3 linked regions of the Homo sapiens genome follow. The protein of the gene in region 2 interacts with the protein of the main gene of each other region in a pairwise test. Each region holds a gene or a part of one and is shown on either strand. Other genes may lie near its edges. The genes, in order: TMEM45B, NSG1 and SLC23A2.

Region 1 (3,651 bases), on a different chromosome or scaffold from region 2:
AGAGACAGATGATGATAAGCCATCAAAAAGGCCTTCTCTGCTTAACCACCCTGCAATGAAGCCAGCCAACCTACAAGCCATGCTCACAGATGACGCACACCATCCCCAAACATGTATAAAGCTTCCAACGTGAAAGGCAGGCCAAAAGCAACATTAAACGTCACTTTAAAAATAGACACAGACATTGTAGGTAGCTGAAGAAAACTTCTAAAATGTAGAAAAAGTACTGAGTTAATATGCTTGGAGAAAGAAGAGAAGATGCTGCGTTCATGAAATGAGAACAGGATACTGTAAAAACCATTCAGAAGACCACACCTCTCGCCAATAAAAGCTCCTGAGAATTAAAAATATAATGGTAGAATGTAAACATTTAATAGCATTGTTGGAAGATTTATTAGAACTAAAAAAACATGGGATATTTTTTAAAATAAAAAAGATAAAATTACAAGACAGATCCAAGAGATCCCATTTTCAGATTCAGTCTAAGTAATTTAAGTTTCAGAAAGAAAGAACGAGGAAATTATATAACAGAAGAAAACCACTCAGAACTGAAGAATGTACTTTTTGGATTGAAAAGGCCTAGAAAATACTTAGGACAGTGACGGATACCTCCCTGTATTCCCCCCACCCCGCCAAAAAACCCACCCCAACATTAAATAACAACATCATGAAATATCAGAATATGAACAATAAAGAAAACCCTACAAATGCCCAGAGATTAGAACAAAATACAAGGGATCAGGAATTAGAATGGCATCAGCCTCTCAACAGCACCGTAAGAAAGTAGAATAAAATAGAGCAATGTTTTCAAAATTCGTACGGGAAATGATTTCTGATTAATATCCCATACCCAGCCAAACCAGCAAGCAAGTGTGAAGGAAGAAAAGTGACATCTCAAATGGGCACAAGCTCAAAAAGCAACCGCATCTTATGGGGCCTGAATCTTATACACTTTTGGGAGCCTTCTTTAAGAAAAAGGCGTAAAATTACAAAAACTGTACATAATTGGGTATGAAAGTACATATGTATTCCACAAGAGATGGCCTAGACAGAAAAAAAAAGTGTGTGTGTATTTAGAATGAGAAAATAAATCACAACAGACAGGGACCGTGGAGGTTCTAGACTCTGTCTTTTCAGATGTGCTTGGAAAATTTACCCCAAATGCTTCTTGATGGCGGCCTGGCGTTTCCTCCCCACTCAACAGCTCCATGCAATTAGCAGCACTCAGAGGGCCCCCATGAGTTTCCTTGGCTCCAGGAAATGACTTCTTGGTGATGAGTTCTCAAACAACTAAAGAAAATGTAGCAACTCCTACACCCCATTCCAGGGGGTTGGGGGAAAGACTGGTCAAGAAGGGAAATGTAAAGATCATGGTGTATCATGTGCCTTAGTTGGGAATAATATATACACCAAACATTGACATATCAAAAATTTAGGATATAACCGTACTGGGAACTTAAAAGAAAGGGATGTGAAGGTGAGAGGGAGGGTGGGGGTGTAAAGGAGCGAAACCCTCATCCTTCTTGGTAGGATGTCAATAGATGTCATCCAGAACTGGAAAAGAGAAGAAGAAATGGCCCGTATCTGCATGCTATTTAGAATATGGTAATATCAGAAAAACACAACCCAAAGCATTGAAAGTAATTGCCGCTAGGGTTCTATACTCAGTATAAACTCAATGAAAACCTTCTACAATGAACGACTTCTAAGACTATACATTGATTTATGTTGACCAAAGCAGATAATTAAAAAATAAAGTATACCCTCAAGAGGAGTGAGGCAAAAAGCTAACAGAAATAAAATAAAGTCGCTTTTGCTAAACTACCTGACATTCGGTGTTTCTCAAAATGTATTCCCGCAACCACCTGCCCTCAGATGACCTGGCGTGCCCGTCCATAATGGAGAATTATAGACCCAGCCCAGACCTACATAATCAGCAGTTCTCAGAGTGGTCCTTGCACTCTACCATTTAAAAAAGTTCCCCTGGACCCACTGCATTACCCATTGCTTTTTAGTAAAACAAACAAAAAACCAAAACAAATAACAACCTATTTAGAGACAGGATCTATGACTCATAAAACACACTATGGCAGATGCTGCTAGCTGCCTACCCAATGTTCATTCTCCCCCCGCCTTATTAACAAAATTCCTATTTTGTTGTTATTATTATTTTTTTGAGATGGAGTTTCGCTCTTGTTGTCCAGGCTGGAGTGCAAGTGGCATGATCTCGGCTCACTGCAACCTCTGCCTCCTGGGTTCAAGCGATTCTCCTGCCTCAGCCTCCTGAGTAGCTGGGACTATAGGCGCCTGCTAGCACGCCCGGCTGATTTTTTGTGTTTTTAGTAGAGATGGGGTTTCACCATGTTGGCCAGGCTGGTCTTGAACTCCTGACCTCAGGTGATCCACCCGCCTTGACCTCCCAAAATGCTGGAATTACAGGCGTGAGCCACTGTGTCTGGCCCAAAATTCTTATTTTGATGTATTGGCAACGTGTCTGTCTCAAACACTAGATTCTCTCTGGTTCCGTCACCGTTAACAGTGTGTATGTGATATGGTTCTGGCCAATGACATGTAAGAAGTCTTTTGGGGTGGGCTACCAGAAAAGCTGTTATTATTATTATTTATTATAAAGAAGGACAGGCCAGGCGTGGTGGCTCACATCTGTAATCCCAGCACTTTGGGAGGCCGAGGGGGGCAGATCACAGGGTCAGGAGTTCAAGACCAGCCTGACCAACATGGTGAAACCCCGTCTCTACTAAAAATACAAAAATTAGCTGGGCGTGGTGGTGCACGTCTGTAATCCCAGCTACTTGGAGGCTGAGGCAGGAGAATCACTTGAACCCAGGAAGCGGAGGTTGCAGTGAGCCGAGATTGTGCCACTGAGAGAGACTCTGAGTCAAAAGAAAGAAAGAGATGAGACAGAGAGAGAGAGAGAGAAAAGAAAAGAAGAGAGAAAAGAAAAGAAAAGAAAAGACAAGACAAGACTCTTCTGGAGCATGCCTCTGCCCGTCTTTCTGCTGCAACTTGCGGAAGTGAGTATGAAAGCTCCATGCTAAGGAGGGTGGTGCGGGAAGACACAAGGAGCCTGTCTCAGATGACGTTCATATCGGAACCCCTTTCCCAGCCCCAGCCTTCTCACCTCCAGACTTCTCGTTCTCTGAGAAAAACAAACTCCTTACTTGTTTAAGCCGCTGTAGTAGGGTTTTCTGTTCTTGTAGCTGAATGAACGTCTAATGACATCTCACACTTTTTCAGATGTTTATCTGACATACCACATTTTATGTATGCCTGCTATGGGCACTGTGCTAGGAATAAGACAAGTAAAGCTCTCTTTGTCATGGAACCAGGAGCACAGTTAGAACAGAAGTTAGAACTTTAGCCACTATAATAACGGCTACAGTTATAATAACAGTTAGAACAGAAGGTCCATAGGCATTTGAGGCTGGGATTCAAGGAGGTTATGTTTGCTGTCACAGACCTCAAACCAAAAGAGTACATCAAAATAAGTCACTGGATTTATACATTTGGCAAATTCTCAAGGGACCACATGACAGAAGGAGCAAAAATCTGAACATTGTTTTTAGCTGTAATTCTCCAATGAAGTAGATTTGGGGAAGCAACATGAGGTACTTGCTTTATTTTTCTTAAATC
Region 2 (3,651 bases):
GCGGAGGGAGAAGGAAATGAGCATTTCTGCTGAGTAATTCAGTTTAAAAAAAAAAAAAAAGGAAAAAACTTGGAAAAAGAAGATGAATCCCGACATCTTCAAGCGTTTACAGCACTAAATATTTTAGGTAACCCACACAAAAGTGAATACATACACACACACACACACACACAGATGACTGAACCCACGTGGTATCTGATTCAGCCGAAGCCCCCACACTACAGCTAGCCTGGGGAAGGTGGGCTCTGCAACCACAGCCCCAGGATCCTACAAGATGCTCGCATAGCTAAAGGTGAGGGGGCGTCCACACACACCTTCAGGGTCTCCAATACCACCCCCACGGGAAGAACCCCCACCCCCACTGCTGAATGCCAAGGAAACGGCATCACTCTTCATAAATATTTAAGAAATGCATCTTGAAACACACCAGGGGCTTACTGGAGAATGTGGAAACAGATGCGCACGCAGGAAGCTCAAGGTCATTAGGGAACACACCAGGGGCTTACTGGAGAATGTGGAAACAGATGGGCACGCAGGAAGCTCAAGGTCATTAGGGATGTGAAGAAAAGACACAAACCACCCACAGAGTCCTCTGCGACAGGATGCAGAGGGACGTCCCCACCAGAGTCTGGACTGCCAACCAGGGGGACCACGCAGACTAACGAGGGCTCTCCTGCCAAGTCACTCCCCAGCCCTGTGCTGGCGGTGAAAGGTGTTCCCGTGCAAAGCCGACCTTCAGATCTCTCAAGGCCCCAGGGTGACATGGTACCCGGTGAGGGTCAAGGCTGGACCACCCAAACCTGACCTCACATCACAGGCAAACAGGGTGTGGAGACCTCTCCAGCGTCAGCAACCGGTCATCACCGGAATCACGAAGCACGAAGGGCTGGAGCGGGCCCTGAGGGAGCCTTCCTGTCACCTGTCTGATGACGGCCCCTAATGACAGTCTCCAGACCGGAAGGAGAACTGCAAGCAGCGGCCCCAGCAGCCCCGACCCGCCACTCTGCAGGCATCAGTGGGGAAGTGCAATTTCAAAAATGTTTAGGTTTGGTTGAGAAACATCTCAGCCAGTGTTTATTCTCACTGTAAATATGCCTCCAGTTAATTAAGCGACTGCTTTCCTTGACAAGAACCTCTTTGGAAGCCCAAGCAGCTGGCCGCCGCTGGGGGAGTCCTCCTGCCATCCCGTGTGGCGGAGTCTCTCAGAACCTTCTCCCAGTCAGCAGTTACCTAGCAACCAGCCTAGTAACCTCACAGCCAAGAGATTAATCCCCAAGTGACAATCAGAAAGCTGCATGCAAAAAGACACTCCGTTTCAAGGATGCCATCCAAACGCCTATAAAGATGAGGTGCTTCTGAGCTACACAAATTGGAGAGAGGAGGGGACAAACGATTTACCTGTCACTTCAAGATCGGAAAGGCGAGATTCCATTCCTGCAATTCATGCATGGAGATGAAAGAGCTAAGATGATGGCTGGGCCAGGGAGCTGCACAGAAGCTGTCCAGTCACTAGTGGGACGAGGAAGATGCTCTGTCCCAACCACAGCTTCGACTGGGCCCTGGCAGGGGGGTACACAAGCCAGGGAGGGTGAATCTCTATTGCGGACCCTCCATCATGCCCGTGTCTCCAGCATAGCCTGCTCCCCATATGCTCCCGTTTCAGAAAGAGAGACCCGCCCAGCCCTCAACCAGCTGCAGCTTCACACACGCCTCATTGTGTGCACGCGTTCAGGGATGCCAGAAATCTAACTGGGTAATAAAAAGCTGGGAGAACATTCCAGAAAGGTGGGCACCCTTAGCATTCCCAAAAAGCACCAGCCCTCCTCATCCTTCCCAGCTTCTGTGCTGGAATGCACCCCCATCGGAAAGGCTCGAAAACTCAGGACACATTAGGATCACCTGGAAAGCATTTGTCAAAACGCATCTCCCTGCGGTTCAGGGTCCAAGTTAAAATCAAACTTCAGGTGATGCTGACTCAGGTGGCTCCAGAAACACCTGGGGAAGCAGCACTTTGGAGGCTGCCTCTCACATCCACCCCACAGCAAGTGGGCAGGGAGCTAGGTAAATCTCCTTCCCAGTTGAGAAGGGGCTCGGAGCAGGCACAGAGAAGAGATGCCCTTAGAATGCAAGTTGTTCAGCTGCGAAAGTCCAGCCTGCAGGCTTCCTGGGCAAGCTAGTGGGCTGAAGTATGCCACAGCAACAGGCTTCTAGAGCCGGCTGCCCAGCTCCTACTCTGCCTCTGCCACTCACTGACTGTGTGGTCTTGAGCAGGTCACCTGTCTGACTTGGTGAGAGCTGACAGGCATCACCTGTTAGAGGCTTACGCGTAAGCATGGCCCCGAGAGAGGCTTCAATCCAATGAGCTGCCAGCTGAACTTACTCAACAAGCAAGGACCCACGGGCAGACCCAGGAAATCTCGCCAAGTACCCCATTCATGGGAGGCCAGCAGCACAATTAGTCATCCATTTACTTATCAAGCTGTTACTGTGTGTGCAAGAAGCGCCAGAGAGATGATATCAAGGAGCTCTTACCATGGCTGGCATAGAGCGGCTGATGAGTAAGTTCCGTCTGCACAAAGAGTCCCTAAGCATTCATTCTTGGCTGACATTCTTGGCTCAGGGGGTCTCCATGGCCTTGTTCCCCTCCTCGGGTCACCAGTTCAGGTCGAGGGGGCCTATGCTTGGAAGGGCCACACCAATGGACCTTGCCAGGACACCCAGTCACAGGTTTCACACCCAAAGAGAAGACAGCCCAACCCAGACCCTCAAAAGAGAGCACCTGGGGGAAGGGAGCGTGGAAACCAGGACTCAGAAAGACACAAGAGAAAAAGAAGCTGTACACTGGGGAGGCTTCCGGGGTACCTGTGCCTGCCATGTCTCTGAAGGCCTTGGGGATGGGGAAGGAGGGCGCCGCACATTCTGTGTGGCTCAAGGCAGCAGAGCAAGGGTTTTGAATCAACAAAGGAAAAGGATTTGAAGAAGTGGAATGGCTCAACAGCGATGGCGCCTGGGGTGAGTGCTCCCACACAAACCCACTTCTCCAAGAAACCAAGGACCTCTGGTGCCACAGCCAAGAGCAGGCTGCCAAGGCTCTCTGCCTCAGTTTCCCCTCTATGTAAAATGGAGCTATAAGGGCGCCTACCTCCTGAGGTGTTTATGAAGATTAAATGAGACAATATGAGCATTAGGAGTGTGAAGCAGAGTCTAGCTCATGGATCACTCCGTCACTGTTAGATGCCATTGCAGCCTGGCTACAAAAGGCACTGGAAACAGGGCGGTGAGGTCTGTTGCAAATGAGAGTGACCCAGGAGGCTTCCTGGCAGAGGTGTGATCTGCACCTGCCCTGGGAGGAGATGGAAGGGATGGGGTCTGGGAAGCAGCAGGCGTCCCATGGGAGTGGGGAGGGATGTGGTGCAAGGTATGTTGGGAAGGCCTTGGCTTTGAAGCTAGAGAGTCACAGAGGGAGCACCCCAGCCACCCTGGGACCACCTGGGACTCAACAGCCTTACGTGTAAAGGGGCCGATGCCACCCCTTCAGGGCAGTTGTGAATCATAAAGGAGGAAAAGAAAACTAAGCAGAGGAACACACCCAGCAGACTTAGTCCAGTATAGTCATGTACTGAGCACCTACTGCATACATCGCCTTCTCAG
Region 3 (3,651 bases), on a different chromosome or scaffold from region 2:
TTCAATTAAATTTGAATAAGCTTTTTCATTTTGGACCATCATTTCATCTCAGAGTTCTTGGCTTTGTGACTCTGAGGGTCTTCTCCACCCTGCTTCAGACCGAAAGCACTGCTGTGTCCTCAGTCTTCATGAAGGAAACACAATTGCTTTCTTTCTTTCTTTTTTCTTTTTTTTTTTGAGACAGAGTTTTGCTCTTGTTGCCCAGGCTAGAGTGCAATGGTGCGATCTTGGCTCACTGCAACCTCCACCTCCTAGGTTCAAGCGATTCTCCTGCCTCAGCCTCCTGAGTAGTTGGGATTACGGTCACTGCAACTGCGCCTGGCTAATTTTTGTATTTTCATATTTTTTTTGGGGACGGAATCTTGCTCTGTCGCCCAGGCTGGAGTGCAGTGGTGCGATATCGGCTCACTGAAACCTCCGCCTCATGGGTTCAAGCGATTCTTCTGCCTCGGCCTCCTGAGTAGCTACGCCTGGCTAATTTTCATATTTTTAGTAGAGACGGGGTTTCACCGTATTGTTCAGGCTGGTCTCGAACTCCTGACCTCGTGATCCACCTGCCTCAGCCTCCCAAAGTGCTGAGATTACAGGTGTGAGCCGCCGCACCTGGCCAACACAATTTCTTATACATTCTACTTTAGATGGGATTTCAGCCTCAAATTCGGTTTGGCTTTATTGACTCCTCTCCAGGGCTGGCTAAAATCATTTCCTGTCTCCAAAGGCAGATCACCTAGCTGGGGGCTAACTACAACACCTTCCTTGTCAAACATGGATCTCATTCTGAAGATCTAGGGTGGACCCCGAAAATGTGCATTTCTCACAAGTTCTCAGGTGACAGGGATGTTGCTGGTGGAGGCATCACCAGCATCTGGTTTTGTAAATAAGGTTTAATTGCAACACAGCCAAGCTCACTCAAGAGACCATGTAACTCTGGCCCTTTACAGAAAAAGTTTGGTGATCCTGCTTCACAGTAAGGTATATGTGGTCAGTGCTGAGAATTTTCTATTGAATTCATGTATCTATATTTTTTGAGACAGGGTCTGTCACCCAGGCTGGAGTGCAGTGGTGAGATCTCTGCTCACTTGCAGCTTCTGCCTCCCGGGCTCAAGAGATCCTCCCACTTCAGCCTCTTGAGTAGCTGGGACTACAGGCATGTACCACTACACCCAACTAATTGTTGTATTTTTTGTAGAGACAGGGTTTCACTATGTTTTTAGAGATGGGGGTCTCCTGTGTTGGTCAGGATGGTCTCGAACTCTTGAGCTCAAGCCTCCTAAAGTTCTGGGATTACAGCCGTGAGCCACTGTTCCCAGCCCAAGTTCATATATTTCTTATCAAGAGCTTTTTTGATATTTATATTTATAGACATTGCTTCACAAATTTTTCCACAGATGCATGATATGGGGGAATGTATGCATATTTAAAAGTGTTTGGAATATAACAAGCATGACACTTCTTTTAAGTCTCTTCTGTTTTATCTAAAATTAATGTGAATTTCTCATTCTGTTTCAGAAACATCAGTGCTTGTTTTAATATAAAACATTTTTCTTCCATGTTCTTTGAGTAAAGTTGATGCTACTAGATACATTGTTTTTGATCTTGACCTGCTTGAGAAACACGTACAGGTTGAATATACCTTCTCCGAAGTGCTTATGACTAGAAAGTGTTTTGGATTTTGGGTTTCTTTTTTTCTTTTTTTTTTTTCGGATTTTGGCATATTTGCACTATACTTACCAGTTGAGCATTCCTAATTTTTTAATCTGAAATTCAGAATGCTTCAGTGAGCGTTTCCTTTTTTTTTTTTTTTGAGACGGAGTCTTGCTTTGTCGCCCAGGCTGGGGTGCAGTGGCGCGCCCAGGCTGGAGTGCAGTGGCACGATCTCAGCTCACTGCAAGCTCCACCTCCCAGGTTCATGCCATTCTCTTGCCTCAGCCTCCCTAGGAGCTGGGACTGCAGGCGCCCGCTACCATGCCTGGCTAATTTTTTGTGTGTGTGTTTTTAGTAGAGACGGGGTTTCACTGTGTTGGCCAGGATGGGCTCGATCTCCTGACCTCGTGATCCACCTGCCTCGGCCTCCCAAAGTGCTGGGATTACAGGCATGAGCCACTGCGCCAGGCTGAGCATTTTCTTTTGAGTGTCTTGTTGGCACTCAGAAAGTACTGAATTTTGGAGCCTTTCAAATTTTGGATCCTTTCAAATTTTGGATTTTTGAATTAGGAATACTCAACCTGTGTTAAGATTTGCATTTTTTTGTCCTACTTTGCAAATATTTTTTTCTATGCCTTGACTTAAATTCAAGTCTGTTGGCCAAGCGCGGTGGCTCATGCCTGTAATCTCAGCACTTTGGGAGGCCGAGGTGGGCAGATCACCTGAGGTCAGGAGTTCCAGACCAGCCTGACCAACATGGAGAAACCCCGTCTCTACTAAAAATACAAAATTAGCCCGGCATGGTAGTACATGCCTGTAATCCCAGCTACTCGGGAGGCTGAGGGAGGAGAATCACTCGAACCCGGGAGGTGGAGGTTGCAGTGAGCCAAGATCGCCTCATTACACTCTAACCTGGGCAACAAGAGCGAAAAACTCCGTCTCCAAAAAAAAAAAAAAAAAAAAACTGTCAATCTTTTTTTATTTCCCATGGCTTTGTTATCCCTAAATTTTATAGGTATTCACTCATGTTTTCTCTTAGTTCTTTAAAAAAAAATTGGCTATAATTAGTCTGATATTTGTTTTGGAGTATGGTATGAAGTAAGGATTATTTGTCCCCTCTAGTTTATATTTTTTGGGTACTATTAATTCATCCTTATTAACTTAAAAAATAACACCTTAATCATATGCTGAATCCTTGGATCTGTTGTTTTAGTCAGTTTATCTGTTCTTTTGCCATGACCTTACTATTTTAGACATTAAAATCACTTTATAGTAGGCTTTATTATCTGGTAGTGCCTATGCTCAGTTTTTACTCCAGTGTTTTTCAATTTAGGGTTTCAAAATACTCCCTCCATCTTGAGATGGAGTCTCACTCTGTCCCCCAGGCTTGAGTGTAATGGCGCGATCTCGGCTCACTGCAACCTCTGCCTCCCAGGTTCAAGTGATTCTCCTGCCTCAGCCTCCCGAGTAGCTGGGATTACAGGCATGTGCCACCACGCCTGGCTAATTTTTGTATTCTTAGTAGAGACAGAGTTTCACCATGTTGGCCAGGCTGTCAAAATACTGTTAATGGGAAATTTCATTAAATGCATAAGTTAATTTGGGGAGACTTGTCATCTTTATAATATTGACTTGTTCTGTGTATGAACAGAAAAAGTCAGTGTCTCTAGATTTTTCCTAATATGTGGTCTATAGATTACTTTTGTGTGTGTGTGTGTGTGTGTGTGTGTGTGTGTGTGTGTGTGTGAAACGGAGTCTCTCTCTGTCACCCAGGCTGGAGTGCAGTGGTGTGATCTCAGCTCACTGCAACCTCCGCCTCCTGGATTCAAGCAATTCTCCTGCCTCGGCCTCCTGAGTAGCTGGGATTACAGGTGTGCACCACTACACCCAGCTAATTTTTGTATTTTTAGTAGAGATGGGGTTTCACCGTATTGGTCAGGCTGGTCTTGAACTGCTGACCTTGTGATCCACCTGCCTCGGCCTCCCAAAGTGCTGGGATTAGAGGCA

The links.
Region 1: the proteins of NSG1 (region 2) and TMEM45B interact in binary tests that used the Homo sapiens proteins (3 or more experiments, as listed by UniProt).
Region 3: the proteins of NSG1 (region 2) and SLC23A2 interact in a two-hybrid assay, tested with the Homo sapiens proteins (one large-scale study listed by BioGRID).

The regions. Positions count from the first base shown.
Region 1 is NC_000011.10:129,818,842-129,822,492, reverse strand, and holds part of TMEM45B (transmembrane protein 45B), read right to left. Parts: intron 1-3,651.
Region 2 is NC_000004.12:4,393,562-4,397,212, reverse strand, and holds part of NSG1 (neuronal vesicle trafficking-associated protein 1), read right to left. Parts: intron 1-3,651.
Region 3 is NC_000020.11:4,991,461-4,995,111, reverse strand, and holds part of SLC23A2 (solute carrier family 23 member 2), read left to right. Parts: intron 1-3,651. UniProt on the Homo sapiens protein: Sodium/ascorbate cotransporter. Mediates electrogenic uptake of vitamin C, with a stoichiometry of 2 Na(+) for each ascorbate.